4 linked regions of the Homo sapiens genome follow. The protein of the gene in region 1 interacts with the protein of each later gene in a pairwise test. Each region holds a gene or a part of one and is shown in the gene's direction. Other genes may lie near its edges.

Evidence for each region.
Region 2: the proteins of FAM219A (region 1) and WWC1 interact in a two-hybrid assay, tested with the Homo sapiens proteins (one large-scale study listed by IntAct).
Region 3: the proteins of FAM219A (region 1) and PDE6D interact in a two-hybrid assay, tested with the Homo sapiens proteins (one large-scale study listed by BioGRID and IntAct).
Region 4: the proteins of FAM219A (region 1) and POLA2 interact in a two-hybrid assay, tested with the Homo sapiens proteins (one large-scale study listed by BioGRID and IntAct).

Annotation. Positions count from the first base shown.
Region 1 is NC_000009.12:34,402,003-34,407,558, reverse strand, and holds part of FAM219A (protein FAM219A), read left to right. Parts: intron 1-1,594; coding exon 1,595-1,694; intron 1,695-4,751; coding exon 4,752-4,854; intron 4,855-5,091; coding exon 5,092-5,172; intron 5,173-5,556.
Region 2 is NC_000005.10:168,430,117-168,434,644, forward strand, and holds part of WWC1 (protein KIBRA), read left to right. Parts: intron 1-20; coding exon 21-107; intron 108-1,135; coding exon 1,136-1,328; intron 1,329-4,528. UniProt on the Homo sapiens protein: Regulator of the Hippo signaling pathway, also known as the Salvador-Warts-Hippo (SWH) pathway.
Region 3 is NC_000002.12:231,734,108-231,737,310, reverse strand, and holds part of PDE6D (retinal rod rhodopsin-sensitive cGMP 3',5'-cyclic phosphodiesterase subunit delta), read left to right. Parts: intron 1-18; coding exon 19-124; intron 125-3,203. UniProt on the Homo sapiens protein: Promotes the release of prenylated target proteins from cellular membranes. Modulates the activity of prenylated or palmitoylated Ras family members by regulating their subcellular location.
Region 4 is NC_000011.10:65,267,434-65,271,961, forward strand, and holds part of POLA2 (DNA polymerase alpha subunit B), read left to right. Parts: intron 1-43; coding exon 44-135; intron 136-1,238; coding exon 1,239-1,296; intron 1,297-4,528. UniProt on the Homo sapiens protein: Accessory subunit of the DNA polymerase alpha complex (also known as the alpha DNA polymerase-primase complex) which plays an essential role in the initiation of DNA synthesis.

The DNA of each region.
Region 1 (5,556 bases):
GTTATTGACTCCATCACTGACTTTGCGTAAGACACTTCCCCTCTCGGCCCAGGTTTCCTCATTTTTAAAAAGAATGGGTGATAAGTTGATATTTGTTGAAGCTGTTGATAGGTACCTATGATCTCACTATACTGTTTTCTCTACTTGTTATAATTTCCATAATAAAACATTTTTAAACATTTAAAATCAAAAGATTTTAACCTTTTTTAAAAAATAGAACCTTTTCTCCAACCAAAATGTTGCAACAGGCTGATATATAAATGAAATAAAGGTGAATCTACTCTTATTAAAGGGAAGCCAGACCCCCATCCTATAGCTAGGATGGCAGCACCCCTGTCAATATTTGGTCCTCAGAGTCTCAGGGAGAATGTGGATGACTTCAGCCACTTGCACGGCCCTGGATCTTGCAGCAGAGGAGGGTGTTTGGGAGGGGATGGCAAGGCTAGATAAGGACTCTTAGCAAGGTATGGTGGCTCATGCCTGTAATCCTAGCACTTTGGGAGGCTGAGGCAGGCGGATCATGAGGTCAGGAGTTCGAGACCAGCCTGGCCAATATGGTGAAACCCCGTCTCTACTAAAAATACAAAAATTAGCTGGGCCTGGTGGCGTGTACCTGTAGTCCCAGCTGCTCAAGAGGCTGAGGCAGGAGAATTGCTTGAAACCGGGAGGCGGAGGTTGCAGTAAGCCAAGATTGCACCACTGCACTCCAGCCTGGGCAACAAAGCAAGACTCCGTCTCAAAAAAAAAAAAAAAAAGACTCTGGACAACATAGTTCCCAGCCCAATTAGAGATTAGTGAAGTGAAGAGGGCAGTGAGGAGGATGTCAAAAGTTCCAGACTCAGGACAATACACAGAATGTGTGCTTTCCTATCTTCCTGACCATCTGTAGAATCAAGTATTTTGCACTCTGGGCAGCAAAAGACTAACTGGCCACCTGCTGGTTTGTCATTATTTGTCTTCTCACCTACTGTACCTAGCCAACTTTTCAGGTTCTCCCCGGAGACACTCTTTAGGTGTCATTTGTGAACTGGAGAAGTCCTCATTAGAACTATTTTTTTGTCCAGTGGCTGTAGCCTTGAAGGCTGGTGTGGCTTGGTCAGTCAGTTCTCTGGATCCTGTGAAGGGACCTGTCCAGCACAGGGAAACAGAGGGAGAAGACCCATCTCAGACAGCACCTGCTCTCCCCTTAACCCAGACTTAAACTCACAGGAACCTAGGAAGACCTTGCCAAGCAAGTACACAGGAAGGGCCTGAGGGGAAGGGCTACTAGTATGGGAGTTAGGAGAAGGAAGTCCTGTGAGTTTAAAGAAATCATGATGGGCTTTCTGGAGGAGGCTGGACCACACAGGACTTTGAGGACAGACACCAAGTTGGGTGTACATGGAACCCAGATCCTTGGTTCTTCTACCTAGCCCAGTGTTTTTGTCCCACGGTAGATGGGTCTGCCCCTCTCTCCCTGAATGCCCTGCCTGCTCTGAGGGGTGAATGCTCACAGAAGCCCAGAGGGCAGGTGGGAAGGCTAGCTTCAGGACTGAGAGCAGCCCCCTGTCTTCACTCCCTAACAACTCTCTGTCTTACTGCTTTCTCCCCACAGGACCCAGCCGCCGCCTCCATCTCTGACGGAGACTGTGACGCCCGGGAGGGTGAGTCAGTAGCCATGAATTACAAACCATCCCCGCTCCAAGTGAAGCTGGGTGAGTGTGTCTGGGGGGTGAGGGAGATGTGGGGAGTAGGCAAGATACTCTGGGCTGGGTCTACAATGAGGTGCCACAAATAAACCAGCTCAGCCTAGATGATTCCAAGACTCAAGCCTTCAAGTCATTGGCACTGCGAGGCACCTTGTCTCCTGCAGGCAAAGAGGGCAGTTACAGTTCTCTGCAGGAGCCTGAAACTCTAAGAGGCATCTCTGAAGCCAAGAACGTTCCAGGTATTCTGGGGCATAGCTGCAGGGGGAAAAGCATGGAACCCCAGAGAGAGGACTTGGAAGTCCCATCAAACACTGGATCAGGCTGAGAGGAAGCTGCCTTAGAAGTGGGATGTTACTTGTTATGTCTAAGGGATAGAAAGGAAAGAGAGTTCCAACCCTAGAAGCCGAGCCCCTCTCCCGATTACAATCTCAGCCCATCTAGAGATCTCTGGGCCCAGTTGGCACCTATCTGGGGGAGTTTTCCCTTCGTTTCTTAGAAAACCCAAATATCTCCCTTCCTTTCTGGGTCACATTTCCCTTGTGGCTTTGTCTCATGTCCATTCCAAAGTCAGTTTACTGTGCAGCCTGATCCTGTGAAGTCCCCTCGCTTCTGGCCACTGTCCACAGCTCCTACCACTATTGCCCTCCCTTCACCTCATGGGCTGTCCCTCTCCCTTCAGGGACCAAAGTTTCACTGTCTCATGGCTGCTGTATATAACACACTTTTATGAAAACTTTGGTTTCTTGAAGAGAAATTACAAAACAGGACATACAGGAAAGAATTTACAATTAAATATAGGTCATTACTATCCTTCCAAGTTCCTCTGCCATCAAGGCCACCCTCCTGTCCATCCTCCTCCTCAGGCTCCAGCTGCCCAACAATTACTGATGCCTCCTCAGTCCTAAGGGCCCTTTGCCTACAACTTTCTCCTTCCTTTCCACAGAGGCCTGTATTTTATTATTCAACTACTATTTTTTTTTCTTACCTTGCTTGCTTCTGTCCTTCCAGACCACATCCAGGGAGCCCCTCGAGCTGTTTTTCTAAACAAGAATAGTCCTCTCCTTGGAATTTGTTTCTATTCCTAGGACATCAGATTAAAACTGCAGCCAATTTTATTTATCAGGGGTGTTGGTTGTTGTTGTTGTTGTTGTTGTTGTTGTTTTGAGACAGAGTCTCTCTCTGTTGTCCAGGCTGGAGTGCAGTGGCATGATCTTGGCTCACTGCAACCTCCGCTTCCCTGGTTCAAGCGATTCTCCTGCCTCAGCCTCTCAAGTAGCTGGGATTATAGGCGCGCATCACCACGCCCAGCTAATTTTTGTATTTTTAGTAAAGATAGGCTTTCGCCATGTTGGCCAGGCTGGTCTGGAACTCCTGGTCTCAAGTGATCCGCCCACCTCGGCCTCCCAGAGTGCTGGGATTACAGGCATGAGCCACCATACCCAGCCTATTATTGTTTAATATCACAATACAAATATTTTAACAAGCATAACTTCTTTACTCTCCCCCATCACATTCTCCTCCTAAGAGGTAACCATTCCAAGCCTTTTCAGTTTTTGTAGTTTTACTTTGTATTTTAACATAAGTGGTATCATATTGTGCACATTTTCTGAAACTTGGCCTTCCCTCTTCCACCACCTAAATCTTGGAGCTCCTTCCAATGTCATCATATTGTGACTTCATTCTTTTAAATGGTTGTATAGTAGTCTTTAGTTTGGTTTTGCCAGTTTATTGTTTGCTTTTTTCCCACTATTTCAAACAATTTCAGCATGCTTTTAAAATAACATCTTTTTTTCTCCCCATTACATTACCATCAAAGCTCCTCATGAAAATTCACAGCATTGTCCCAGTTGCACCTAGTACCACCAGGAACTTTAAGGCAAATTGCACCCCCTAGAGGCCTGGAGTGGTAATGGCAGCTGCCACCTGCTGGAAAGAAGCTGGGAAAAAGCTGGAATCAGCTGAGCACTGGCAAAGAAAGAGGGTCAAAGAGTAGAAGACAGAGATTCAGAGACATGAGGTCAGGGGAAATTTCCAAGTGAGTCACAGTAGCTGTAAAGGTCCTTCCCATCCTTACCCTCTGGAGCATTTGGCTATTTTATGAGTCATTTTCCCTAGTGTCCCTCTCCACCTAACAGTTCCTTTTCCTAGATCTGGCCTTTACTTGAGATGAGTAGGGAAGAGTAGATGGGACTCCTCCAAGACCCAGGAAGCTACTTCTGGTAACAGTTGTCACATACCAGGCAGTGGACTGGGTCACCTGATGGCCAGCTCCATGAAGCTGGTAGGCTTTGGAACCTTGGAGAACTCAGACCTTGGCAAAGGAGTCAGGAGCACCACTCAGGCAGCGTAGCCAAATGGGCTCCCCCAGCCTTCTGCCCCTTACTTTGTAGCCCCATCCTGCACCTCCCACACCATAACCTTCAGTGGCTTCTTCTTCCTTCTGCGTTAATCCCAAACTCCTCTGTCTGGCATTCAAGTCCTTCATGTTCTGAGTTTGTAACCAGAGAGGGTCTTCGGCCCCTTAGCACAGGACCAGACTTATAATTAGTGACATGGATATTTGTTGAATAAGTGGCTGAATAAATGAATTTTACTTCTCTAACCTGACCTCTCTCTTCACCCCTCTATCCAGAGCCACACTTATGCTCACTTTTAAATGCATTTTTGCACACACTATCCCTCCTTCCTAGAATGTCCACCTCTCTCCAGGTCATGGTGTCACCTAAAGGAAGCCCTCTCTGACTGCGCCATCCTTCTGTGATTGTCTCTCCCCCGCCAGCCTTTCCCTGGCATCAAGTACACACTAACTACCCTAACATGGGAGTTGTGGTTCCTGAAAAACAGGGGGCAGCCTCCTCTTTTTGCCCCCCACTGTCTGCCTCAGGTTGTGCAGGGCCAGGTACTATCTCCACCAAGCAGCAGGGGCCTGGAGTTGGGATCCCTGCCTCAGTCCTTCTAGGAGCAAGTGGTTTCACAGTGGAGGCCCAGCCCAGGCTGCCCTGAGTAGTAAGACAGGGTGGCCTCAGGGGCAGGACACAGCTTCCTTCCCATGTTCTCCTGCAGAGAAGCAGCGGGAGCTGGCCCGGAAGGGCTCCCTGAAGAATGGCAGCATGGGTAGCCCTGTCAACCAGCAACCCAAGAAGAACAATGTCATGGCCCGAACAAGGTAGAGGCCCTCCCTACCCCACCTGGACCCTGCCAGCCAGGACCTATTTCTGCTGGTCCTGAGCCTCCCCCTCTTCCCTCCCTCCTCAGGCCCAGCTCCTCTCTGAGAGGAGACAGCCTTAACAGGATCCAAGGTGGGGAGGGAGGGAAGAAAGTGGTGGGACGGGGCCCAACCCAGTCCCTTGCCAGGTTTCTATGCTCCACTTTGCCACTCTAACTCCCGAAATTCTTCACCTAGGCTGGTCGTCCCCAATAAAGGCTACTCCTCACTTGACCAGAGCCCTGATGAGAAGCCACTGGTAGCCCTTGACACGGACAGGTGTGTATGGGGGCTTGGGGGTAGCTGGGCAGCCCAAAGGAACCTGTATAGCACAAGTGGGCTGTACAGGCCACACCTGCTATATTGTCAGAATTGGGATATTCTTCAGCCAGAATCTCTCCAAGGGTGAATTCTCCAGGGATGGGAATTTTTTTACACCAGGGACTGGGGGTTGAAGAGAGGTGGCAGAGAGAGGAAAGGGGGGCCTGCGTTGTCTGCTGTCATCCTGGGACAACTGATCCAATGGTTGTCCCTAATTGGCCTGTGATGTTGTCTCTGGACAGCAGAATATGATGCTTAATGCCCCATCCCCTCAGGAAGGAGCCCTACTCCCTGGAAAACACCTGGCTAGACTTGGACTTTGGGAATATCCTACAAGTCAGG
Region 2 (4,528 bases), on another chromosome or scaffold:
TATGCCCCTTTTCATTTCAGGTATGATGAGAAGAATAAGCAATTTGCAATATTAATCATCCAGCTGAGTAACCTTTCTGCTCTGTTGCAGCAACAAGACCAGAAAGTGTGAGTATGTAGCTGGACAGGTGTATTTCATACCCTAACCCTCTGGAGTTACCCCTGGGGGTCACTTTTCTGCCCTGTCCTGATCCAGTTATGGGCCTTGTCAAGGCACTGTGGGTTTGTACTGCATATGACTGTGATGCTGAATGTCGGTGCTGTGCATGTGAATACAGGCACAACGGCAAGCACACCAACTGTAAAGACAAGCACTCTCTAGATGACTGTGTGAATTCCTGCCCCATTACGTGCTGAGCACCTGCTGCATGCCAGCTCTAGGAATGGGGTGGTGAGCAGATCCTTCCTGGGCCCTACCCTCCTGGACTTTGAGCCTCATGGAGAAGAATGGTCACAGTCTGTTTTATCTTCTCCTAAGCTCAAGTGTTTCTTGCAGAGAGAGATAGGTCTTCTGTTTCCAAGAGTCAACACCAGTCACTGCTTCTCTTGGAGGGGTGTGACTGCGTGTTACCTTGATGCTGGTAGGATGCAAACACCTGCTCTGTCTGCCTGTGGGCTCCTCCCATGGTAGATGGGTTTATCCTTTATTGCACTCATCTGCCTCCAAGTTTTCTCTGATCGTAAGGCCTGGAGGGTGGCAACAGAAGCTTATGTGTCTGTGGTCTACACTCAGCCAGCCTGTGAGGGTGGCACATGTGGGAAGAAGAAAGGGCAGGAAGGCGGACAAAACGGAAGGAAGACAAGATGGGATGCTTGGGTCAATTTCAGTCTTCTGCCCACACAGACAGTGCCAGGCTGAATAGCCTCCTCCATAGCTCACTGGTACTCATGCAGGGGCATCTGTGGGATAATGCCTAGAAGTGAAGGGTCTGGACCAAAGGACAAATGCATCTGGAATTTTGTTCGATTTGTCAAAGTTCCTTCCAGTGTATAGGGGCCTGATTCCCCAGATTCCTCACTTCTACAAACTCTCATCCACTGTTGTTTGCTTAGGGATTTCAGCAGCTGTTTAGTCCAACATTTTAGCCCCAGACATGGGCTGACCCAAGATTTCCTGCGGTTCTGTCTCCCTCTAGGAATATCCGCGTGGCTGTCCTTCCTTGCTCTGAAAGCACAACCTGCCTGTTCCGGACCCGGCCTCTGGACGCCTCAGACACTCTAGTGTTCAATGAGGTGTTCTGGGTATCCATGTCCTATCCAGCCCTTCACCAGAAGACCTTAAGAGTCGATGTCTGTACCACCGACAGGAGCCATCTGGAAGAGTGCCTGGTAAGGGCCGTGTCTGGCTGGCTGGCTGGCTGGCTGGCTGGCTGGCTGGCTGGCTGGCTGACCGGCCTTCTGTGTTTATGGGGATTGGTCTACCCTGAGCTTCAGGAAGAAGGTTCGAAGGAGACGCAGGTTGTGCTATCAATCAGGCTCATCTTGGATTCTAGGCAGCGAGGCTTCCACAGGTGAATGTTGTTCTCAGACTTAGGGTGGGAGGGAAGGAGCTCTTTCACAAGAGGAAGAGTAATGGACCTGAAAGTGCCTTTTAAAACTGCCAGAACCTGGAAAAAGCCACATACTGCAGCTTTACTATACAGCATGAGAGATTAGATAAGAAGCACAGACTATGGCTGTGTGGTGGCTTATATCTGTAATCCCAACCCTTTGGGAGGCCAAGGCCAGAGGATCACTCAAGTGCAGGAGTTCGAAAGCAGCCTGGGCAACACAGCAAGACCCCATCTCTACAAAAAATAAAATTAGCCAGGCATAGTGGTGCATGCTTGTAGTCCTAGCTACTCTGGAGGTTGAGATGGGAGGATCCCTTGAGCTGCAATGAGCTGATCATGCCGCAGCATTCTGGCCTGGGCAACAGCAGAACCCTGTGTCAAAAAAAAAAAAAAAAAAAGCACAGAGTAATGAAAGCAAACACATAGGCATTCACATCCCACCTTTACCACTTGCTGTATAGCTGGATGACCTTGGGCAAGGTACTTAACATCTCTGATCCTCATTTTTCTTATCCCTAAAATGCAAATGATAATGCCTCCATCATGCCCACTGGAAGAATCTTTATAAGGATTGAGATAGCACCCGTAAAACACCTATTCAAGTGTCTGATCCACAGTGGGTTCTCGTTTAGTGGGGCCATTGCCAGCCTCCTCCCTGAAACTGACCTTCTCCGGCTTCCATCTCTCACTGCATTGGCAGGAGTCAGGACTGGGGATGAAGTAGCCCAAGTACATTTTGTCCTAAGAGACAGGCAGACCCAAGTGCAGACAGATACTCAGCTTTCCCATCTGTAGAAGGGGGATTTATATAATAGCTAACTCGGGCTTGTGATGTACAAGTGAATTAGAAGAAGTAAAGGGCTTTGTTAACCCTGATGCCATTTAGTGTTAGAATATTTTAATGATAACTCAACTGTGGGCACAAAGGAGCCCAAGTGTGGGCATTATACCTAGAAGGTCGCTCCACTCATGCTCAGATCTGTACTGGGAGCTTGTTGTGTCCCCACCCCTGTGTCTGGGGCTGGGGATTCAATGGGGAACCAAACAGACAAGGTGCCAGCATTGATGGCTAAGATGTAAACAAACTGTGAGGAGGGCCGTGTTGGAAATGGATGGGTTGAAGTGATGGAGGAAAATGTGGGGTATGTGCAAAGGGGAAAAACAAGATGTATACACCTCTCCGAGCCTCTCCTGCCTCCATTTCTGGAAGCTGGAATGTAGAGCCTCTCACTGCCTTCTTGGAGGGCTCGCCCCTTTCTCCTGCTGTAAATCACAGACCTTTGCCCAGAGAAGGGAATCTCTTTGCTCTCCATCCTTGCCTTGATCTGCATGCGCTATAAAACCCTTCTCTATCATGGCATTGTGGGGCCACATCCTTGGATTGTGGCCTGGGGCTGTCACCAGCCTTGCCCTTCCAGCTGTGTCTCCTCACAGTCTTCAATTCTTAGTCTCAGTTCCCTTATCTGTAAAATCTGGCTCATACTGCCTTCCTGGAGGTGGTTCTCTGAAGACTAACTAAGGCGCTGAAGCAGCGCTTCAAACTGTGCCATGCACACAAGTTACCTGGAGCTCTGGCTAAATGCAGATTCTGATTCAGCAAGTCTGGAGCAGAACCTGAGATTCTGCATTTCTAATAAGCTCCCAGGTGAGGCCAATGCTGCTGGTTCCTGGATCACACTTTGGGTAGCAAGAATGTAGAGCAGCAAAGTGTTTGCAGTTTGTGCTCACTGGATATCGGTTCCCATCTCTCCTTCTTAGCTGGGTACAACACAGCATCACTGCTATTGATGTTGTTACTGACAATAATGCAGTAGTTAATACCAGTAGGTTGCAGTTTATATGGCAGGCACTGAGTTAAGCTCTTTACATGCATTATCTGTTTTTTTTATTTTAGACTGAGTCCTGCTCTCAGTCTCTGGAGTGCAGTGGCGTGATCTTGGCTCACTGAAACCTTCACCTCCTAGATTCAAGCAATTCTCCTGCCTTAGACTCCAGAGTAGCTGGGACTACAAGCGCCCACCACCACACCCGGCTAATTTTTGTATTTTTAGTAGAGGCGGGGTTTTGCCATGTTGGCCAGGCTGATCTTGAACTCCTGACCTCAAGTGATCCGCCTGTCTCCACCTCCCAAAGTTCTGGGATTACAGGTGTGAGCCACCACCCCAGCCCATTATCTCTATTGATCCTCACTCCAACCTTGCAAAATAGGTAGCGTATTCCAGTGGAGAAACTGAGGCACAAAGAGGTGAAAGACCTTTCCTGTCACAGTTAGGAAAGTGGCAGAAGCCGTATTTGAACCCCAGCAGGTCTCCCTCTGAAGTCCACACACGTCAGCGCCTCTGTGTTGTCTCTTTGCCAGCACAGGGCTCCCTGGAGCCCAGAGATGGGGGTGGTGACTTGAAGGGGTTGGCAAGCCTGGGCTCCTCCAGCGAAGCATTCCCTTGGCCCTGGGCATTCCTAAGCGAGAAGAGGCTCAATCCTATTTTCTTCTCCTAATTGGATGCCTTTTATTCCTCCTTCCTAATTGAAGTCTGGTCATTGCTGGTTGCCATGGCAGCAGCCAAAGCGCTCATCTCACTGTGGCTTGTCTCTGCCTGCGGCCAATGGGAAACCTCCTTTCCCATATACGGTGGGGACATGGAGTGTCAGGCTGTCGTATTCTGGTGGCTGGAGGAGGAGAGGAAGTGAGATGGGAGGAAAAAGGCCTGTCCTCTCCCACGCAGAGACTCCGGACAGCAGGATGTGTGGAATCCCCAGTCTGTTTTCAGCCAGGCAGCAACAGCATCTGTACTGAGTTGAGTCTATGTGTCTACCAGTGGGCTAAGAACTTCATGTGCAGTATCTCATTTAATCTTCGTGATGGCCCCAGGAAGATAAGGGATCAAGGCCCAGAAAGGCTAAGTAAGCTGCCAGGTCATCCAAGGAGAAAATGGCAAAGCCTGGATTTGAACAGAGACTCCAGCTTCCTTATGTGTA
Region 3 (3,203 bases), on another chromosome or scaffold:
TTTTCCTTCTTCCTTCAGAATGGTTCTTCGAGTTTGGCTTTGTGATCCCTAACTCCACAAATACCTGGCAGTCCTTGATAGAGGCAGCACCCGAGTCCCAGATGATGCCAGCAAGCGTCTTAACGTGAGTGAGCAGGTCTCAGGAAATTATGAAGTGTGTCTAGAAACAGGCATTCCAGGCAGGTGGGACTCCTGGTGCCATTCAGTGGGCAGAGAGCTCGGTTGAGAAATAGAGTAAAAGAGTATCCAAGGGTATCTAGGTTTCCAGGTTCCTGACCTTTTTCATATGAAAAAGACAGTATGATAGAGTAGAAAGAATAAAAAACTAAAAATAAAAATAAAACTTTAGATTAAACCAGATTTAAATTCCTGATTCACCCTGACTACCTGTGTCATCTTGGGCACTAATATACTTTATCTCTCTGAGCCTTAGTCTTTCATCTCTAAACACAGAAATTAATTCTGTCTTACAGAGGTGTAATGAAGATAAAATGTGATGACATGGAAGGAGACTGGCATTTAATATATATACCGAATCTATGTTAATTTGCTCCCATTCCTGACTACCGTACTTCCGGTATCTCTGTATTTTGTTTAGATCACCTTTAACAGAATCTGGCAAAGTCCTATTAATAATTCTGTTTTCGAGGATACTACTTGGTTACAGTTTTTTGGAGAATGGCTTACCATATTAATAGCTTTGGTTCCTGTTCCAAGAACAATTTGTTTGTGCTTTTTCCAAAAACACTGTCAATAACTTCCTACCTCCCATTGTCTGTGGGAAAGATGTTAGTCTCTCAAATGTTATAGTAATAGTACCTTCTAAAGAGTTAGCTGGGCGTAATGGCACACACCTGTAATCCCAGCTACTCAAGAAGCTGAGATAGGAGAATTGCTTGAACCCAGGAGGTGGAGGTTACAATGAGCCAAGATCATGTCACTGCATTCCAGCCTGGGTAGCAGACCAAGACTCTATTTCAAAAAAAAAAGAGTTAGTCCCACAGATAATTGTGTAATATTGGATCATCTCTTTCAACAGTTCCTTTATGAAAGCCATATTGAATTTGTTAAAAATTGAGGTTATTGACTTTAAGGTTTTTTGTTTTTGTTTTGGGTTTTGTTTATTTTATTTTTTTAAAAAACAGGGTCTTGCCATGTTGCCCAGGCTGGACTCCAACTCCTGGGCTCAAGTGATCTTCCTAGCTCAGCCTCCTAAGTAGGTGAGACTACAGGCATGTGCCACCATGCCTGTCTCTACTTTTTAAGTTTTTTTTTTTTTTTTTGAGACAGAGTCTCGCCCTGTCACCCAGGCTGGAGTGCAGTGGCGTGATCTCAGCTCACTGCCAGCTCCGCCTCCCAGGTTCAAGCAACTCTCCTGTCTCAGCCTCCCAAGTAGCTGGGATTACAGGCATACACCACCACACCGGTTAATTTTTTTTTTGTATTTTTAGTAGAGACAGGGTTTCACCATATTGGTCAAGCTGGTCTCGAACTCCTAACCTCGGGTGATCCACCCGCCTCAACCTCCCAAAGTGCTGGGATTACAGGCATGAGCCACCGTGCCCAGCCCCTTTTTAAAGTTTTTAATAGTTTTTTTAACAGCCAGGTGTGGTGACACTTTCCTATAATCCTAGCTACTTGGGAAGCTGAGGCGGGAGGATTGCTTGAGTCCAAGAGTTTGAGACTAGCTTGGGCAACATAGATTTTGTAAGAGGCTGGGCGCAGTGGCTCACACCTGTAATCCCAGCACTTTGGGAAGCCAAGTCGGGTGGATCACGAGGTCAGGAAATCGAGACCATCTTGGCTAACACAGTGAAACCCCATCTCTACTAAAAATACAAAAAATCAGCTGGGCATGGCGGCACACGCTTGTAGTCCCAGCTACTCGGGAGGCTGAGGCAGGAGATCACTTGAATCTGGGTGCCGGAGGTTGCAGTGAGCCGAGATCACGCCTCTGCACTCCACCCTGGGTGACAGGGCGAGACTCCACCTCAAAAAAAAAAAAAAATTGTAATAGAATTTTTTAAAGTTTTAATAGTTTTAAAAGTAGATTTTTTTTTTTTTTTTTTGATATGGAGTCTCGCTCTGTTGCCCAGGCTGGAGTGCAGTGGCAAGATCTCGGCTCACTGCAAGCTCCACCTCCCAGGTTCCCATCTTTCTCCTGCCTCAGCCTTCCGAGTAGCTGGGACTACAGGCACCCGCCACCACGCCCAGCTAATTTTTCGTATTTTTAGTAGAGACGGGGTTTCACCATGTTAGCCAGGATGGTCTCGATCTCCTGACCTCGTGATCCGCCCGCCTCGGCCTCCCAAAGTGCTGGGATTACAGACGTGAGCCACCGTGCCTGGCCTAAAAGTAGATTTTTTAATTACAGTAGTAGCTATTTTTATATCTTATCAGCCAGTCAGATTCTGAGTACCTTATTTACCTGTTTTTTGGGGTTTTTTTTTTTGTTTTTTTTTTTGAGACGGAGTCTCGCTCTGTCGCCCAGGCTGGAGTGCAGTAGCATGATCCCAGCTCACTGCAACCTCCGCCTCCCAGGTTCACGCCATTCTCCTGCCTCAGCCTCCTGAGTAGCTGAGACTACAGGCACCCGCCACCACGCCCGGCTATTTTTTTTTTTTTATATTTTTAGTACAGACGGGGTTTCACCATGTTAGCCAGGATGGTCTCGATCTCCTGACCTCATGATCTGCCCGCCTCAGCCTCCCAAAGTGCTGGGATTACAGGCATGAGCCACCATGCCCGGCCTATTTACCTGTTTTATAATTAATTACCAGCAGAAATGTATCTGCTGGTTATTAATTACCCTGGGAAAGTACAGAGTAGTTTAGGAAAGCAGGGGTTTTTTTTTTTTAGATTTTATTAAACTTCATTTGACTTCTTCTTCACGAGGCGTGATTTTTTGTTGCTGTTTTTTTTTGAGACGGTCTCGCTCTGTCTCAAACCTATCATAAGATGAAAATATCATAAGTCAAAAATGCATTTAATATCCCCATAAATCCACTATAAAGTTGAAAGATCATAAGTTGATTCATTATAAGTAGGGAACCAACTATACTTAACTTTTTATTTTTTATTTTTTTTTATTTTTTTTGAGACAGAGTCTCGCTCTGTCGCGGAGGCTGGAGTGCAGTGGCGTGATCTCGGCTCACTGCAAGCTCCGCCTCCCGGGTTCCCACCATTCTCCTGCCTCAGCCTCC
Region 4 (4,528 bases), on another chromosome or scaffold:
ACTTGACTATGAAGTACTGTATTCACTATCTTTTCTTTTTCAGTTTCTGAGCAAAAGATTATCGAAAGCCAGGCATAGTACCTGCAAGGACAGTGGCCATGCAGGAGCTAGAGACATTGTTTCCATTCAAGAGCTGTATCCTTTTCTGCTGAAGGTCTTTGCACCAAGCTACATGTTGTATTTTATAATTTGTCTGTAGTCGCATGTGTAATTTAAAAACAAATAATAAGGCCGGGCACGGTGGCTCAGGCCTGTAATCCCAGCACTTTTGGAGGCCGAGGCAAGCAGATCACTTGAGCCCAGGAATTTGTGACCAACCTGGGCAACATGGTGAAACCCTGTCTCTATCAAAAGTACAAATTTTTTTTTTTTTTTGAGTTGGAGTTTCGCTCTTTTTGCCCAGGCTGAAGTGCAATGGTGCAATCTCAGCTCACTGCAACCTCTGCCTCCCAATCTCAAGTGATTCTCCTGCCTCAGCCTCCTGAGTAGCTGGGATTACAGGTGCACACCACCACACCTGGATAATTTTGTATTTTTTTTGGTAGAGACAGGGTTTCACCATGTTGGCCAGCTGGTCTCGAACTCCTGACCTCAGGTGATCCGCCTGCCTAGGCCTCCCAAAGTCCTGGGATTACAGGCGTGAGTCACCGTGCCCGGCCAAAGTACAAATTAAAAAATAATAATAATAAGCTGGGTGTGGTGATGTACGCCTGTAGATCCAGCTAGTTGGTAGGCTGAGGTGAGAAAATCTCTTGAACCTGGGATGTGGAAGTTGCAGTAATCTGAGATCAGGCCACTGCACTCCATCCTGGACGACGAGGAAACCCCATCTCAATAATAATAATAGTAAAAATTGCCTAATATTGAGATTTCTTCTAGCAATCAGCCCTTGCCTTATATGAAAGTTTATTATTATTATTATTATTTTTTTTTTTTGAGATGGAGTCTCGCTGTGTCGCCCATGCTGGAGTGCAGTGGTGTGATCTCAGCTCACTGCAAGCTCCGTCTCCTGGGTTCATGCCATTCTCCTGCCTCAGCCTCCCGAGTAGCTGGGACTACAGGCGCCCGGCTAATTTTTTGTATTTTTTTTAGTAGAGACGGGGTTTCACTGTGTTAGCCAGGATGGTCTCTGTCTCCTGATCTCGTGATCCGCCCATCTCGGCCTCCCAAAGTGCTGGGATTACAGGCATGAGCTACCGTGCCCAGCCATTATTGTTTTTCTTAACCAGTGTTCTTAGAATTGAAGTGGAAGAAGAAGAGGAAATCCTCTTGAACTCTTACACCACACCTTCAAAGGTAAGTAAACAGTGTTTGGACATTGCATTTTACAAGTAACATTTTAAAATAGTTTCACAACATTTGAAGATCTGAGGGAAAAAATCAACCACTCTCATGCATTTCCTACTATATTTCCACTTATACATCTTCCTTTCTGATCATATGTCTAAATGTTTTACATAATGGCAGTCCTTATAAACATATAGTTATCCTGCTTTTCTCAGCACAACATAAAACATTTCTATAAACATAATTTCTCCATAATTGCCCTTTTTGAATAGTTTCATAGTTTTATACTATAATTGAATAATTCAGTTCTGTGTTGGATCCCAGTGTGAAAGGTCAAGTAGGGTAGTGGAAAAGCATTGCCTTCAAAGTCTGAGTCAGAAGACCTAGGTGACCTGGAGTGAGTTGTTTTATCTCTCTGAGACAGTTTCCTTATCCATAATATCAGGATTCATTCATTCAGTTATCCAGCAACAACTATGTGGCCAGGCGCAGTGGCTCATGCCTGTAATCCCAGCACTTTGGGAGGCTGAGGCAGGCGGATCACGAGGTCAGGAGATCGAGACCATCCTGGTTAACATGGTGAAACTCTGTCTCTACCATAAATACAAAAAAAGAAATTAGCCGGGCGTGGTGGTGGGCGCCTGTAGTCCCAGCTACTTGGGAGGCTGAGGCAGGAGAATGGCGGGAACCTGGGAGGCAGAGCTTGCAGTGAGCCGAGATCGCGCTACTGCACTCCAGCCTGGGCGACAGAGCGAGACTCCGTCTCAAAAAAAAAAAAAAAAACAACAACAACAACTATGTACTGCACTAGACATTGAGTAAACAATGGTGAATGAAACAGACATGGATGGGCTCTGCCCTCAAGAAGCTGACAGCCAGTGCACAATATCCCCCATCTTGGAGGGCTTGAAGAGGAAATAAATAGGTAAAGTATCAGGCCCTATGCAATGTATTCAGTAATGGTAACTATTCTTTATACTAACTAAATAAGTTTGTAGACATTCATAAACATGGAGTGAGCCTTAATTATTCAAAGTAAACTACATCATAAGAAAGAGGTAATTTACATTGCCCTATGCAATGTATTCAGTAATAGTAATTATTCTTTTTTGTTGTTGTTGTTGTTGTTTTGAGATGGAGTTTTCCTCTTGTTGCCCAGGCTGGAGTGCAATGGCACGATCTCGGGTCACTGCAACCTCCGCCTCCCGGGTTCAAGCAATTCTGCCTCAGCCTCCTGAGTAGCTGGGATTACAGGCATGCGCCACTACGGCCAGCTAATTTTTGTATTTTTAGTAGAGACGGGGTTTCACCATGTCAGCCAGGCTGGTCTCGTACTCCTCACCTGCGGTGATCCACCTGCCTCGGCCTCCAAAGTGCTGGGATTACAGATGTGAGCCACCGTGCCCAGCCCAGTAATTATTCTTTATACTAACTAAATAAATTTGTAGAAATTCATAAACATGGAGGGAGCCTTAATTATTCAAAGTAAATTACATCATAAGAAAGAAGGTAAGGGCTGGGTGCAGTGGCTCATGCCTGTAATCCCAGCACTCCGGGAGACCAAGGCAGGAGGATCAGTGACCAGAGATCATGCCGCTGCTCTACAGCCTGGATGACAAAGTGAGACCCTGTCTCAGGAAGAAAGAAGGTAAATAGTTTAGATATGCCTGTGGAGAGTAAGAGGGCCAAAAATGTGCCCCATGAAGTTGCTAACACAAAACCAGGTGCATATAATATTAAAAGAAATAATTAGGTGTTTGTTAGAGTTTCTTAAAATTGGAGAGACTATAACTCATTTGATTTTCCTCCTAAAGTGGTTTTCTGAGTCCATATCCCAGTGAAGGACACCTCCGTTCTTCCATTGACTCAGGCCAAGAACCTTGGAGACCTCCTTAAATCCTTTTTCTCTCACACCCCACATCCAACTTAGCTACCAGTCCTGTCATCCCTCTCCAGGATCTGGCCACCTCTCACCATTTCCACTGCTACCACCAGGTCCACAGCATCATTGTCTCCTGAATGATTGGGACAGCCTCCTAACTAGTCCATTGGCTTCTTTCTGCCATATCCACCTCTAACCACCTCTCCACCCAGCAGCCAGAGTGCTCCTTTCCAGCAAAAGGTCAGGTTTTCTTGCTCACATCTCTCCCACTGGCTTTTCGTCTTTCCTCCTGATATGCAAAGTTTGAACCAGCATATGTGAAGTTCTGTAGGAGCTGGCCCCCTCCTCCTTCTGTCCTCTTTCCCTGCTCCCCTTTGCTCTCTGCTTCTGCCGTGCCAAATATGGGTTCATTTCCTATGTCTCCTTGTCAGGGAACAAGCCTGCCTAAAAGAACAAAGCCCTTCTTCTGTTTTATTTTCTTGCTTTATTTTTCTCCTTATTATTCTCTTGCTTTATTACCACCAAACATGTTATATACTTACTTTTTTGTTTTAGTCGGCCTTCCCTCCATTAGATGGAAGCTCCTTGAGAATAGAGACTTTGTTTTTACTTGCTGCTGTTTTCCCAGCACCCTGGCATGTTAATAGTTGTTGAAAGATCTCTGAATAAGGGAGTGTGGTTGGCTCTCTCAATTGCAATACCAATGGGACCACCACGGTTTTATCTGGTTAACAGCTTCACAGATCCAGAATTTTATGTAATTTGTCTGTGTATCCAGAATTGATCATATTCCGGAGTCTGACTCATGGTAACCCAGCTGTCAGTAGACTGATGCGTAAGCCAGGTGCAAATTTGTTTACTTTACTATTGAAGTAGATACCCTTCCAATGACTGAAATCCCATATTTAGGATACCCCATTCCTGCTATGGAAATACTTAGGAGACTAAATTGTGAATCAAAGTTTGTGACTGTGAGGCCGAGTGCAGTGGCTCACACCTGTAATCCCAGCACTTCGGGAGGCTGAGGCAGGTGGATCACTTGAGGTCAGGAGTTCGAGACCAGCGAAACTCCATCTCTACTCAAAAAATTAGCTGGGCATGGTGGTGGTGCCTATAATCCCAGCCACTCAGGAGGCTGAGGCAGGAGAATCGCTTGAACCCGGGAGGTGGAAGTTGCAGTGAGCCAAGATTACACCACTGCCCTCCAGGCTGGATGACAGAACCAGACTCCGTCTGAAAAAAAAAAAAAAAAAAAAGTTTGTGACTGTGAATTCCACGCTAAATGAGTTGGAGTGAAATGTTGAGCAAACAATATGTCCAGGCTAGAGATACGTAAAATGCTTAGAACAGTACTTATCA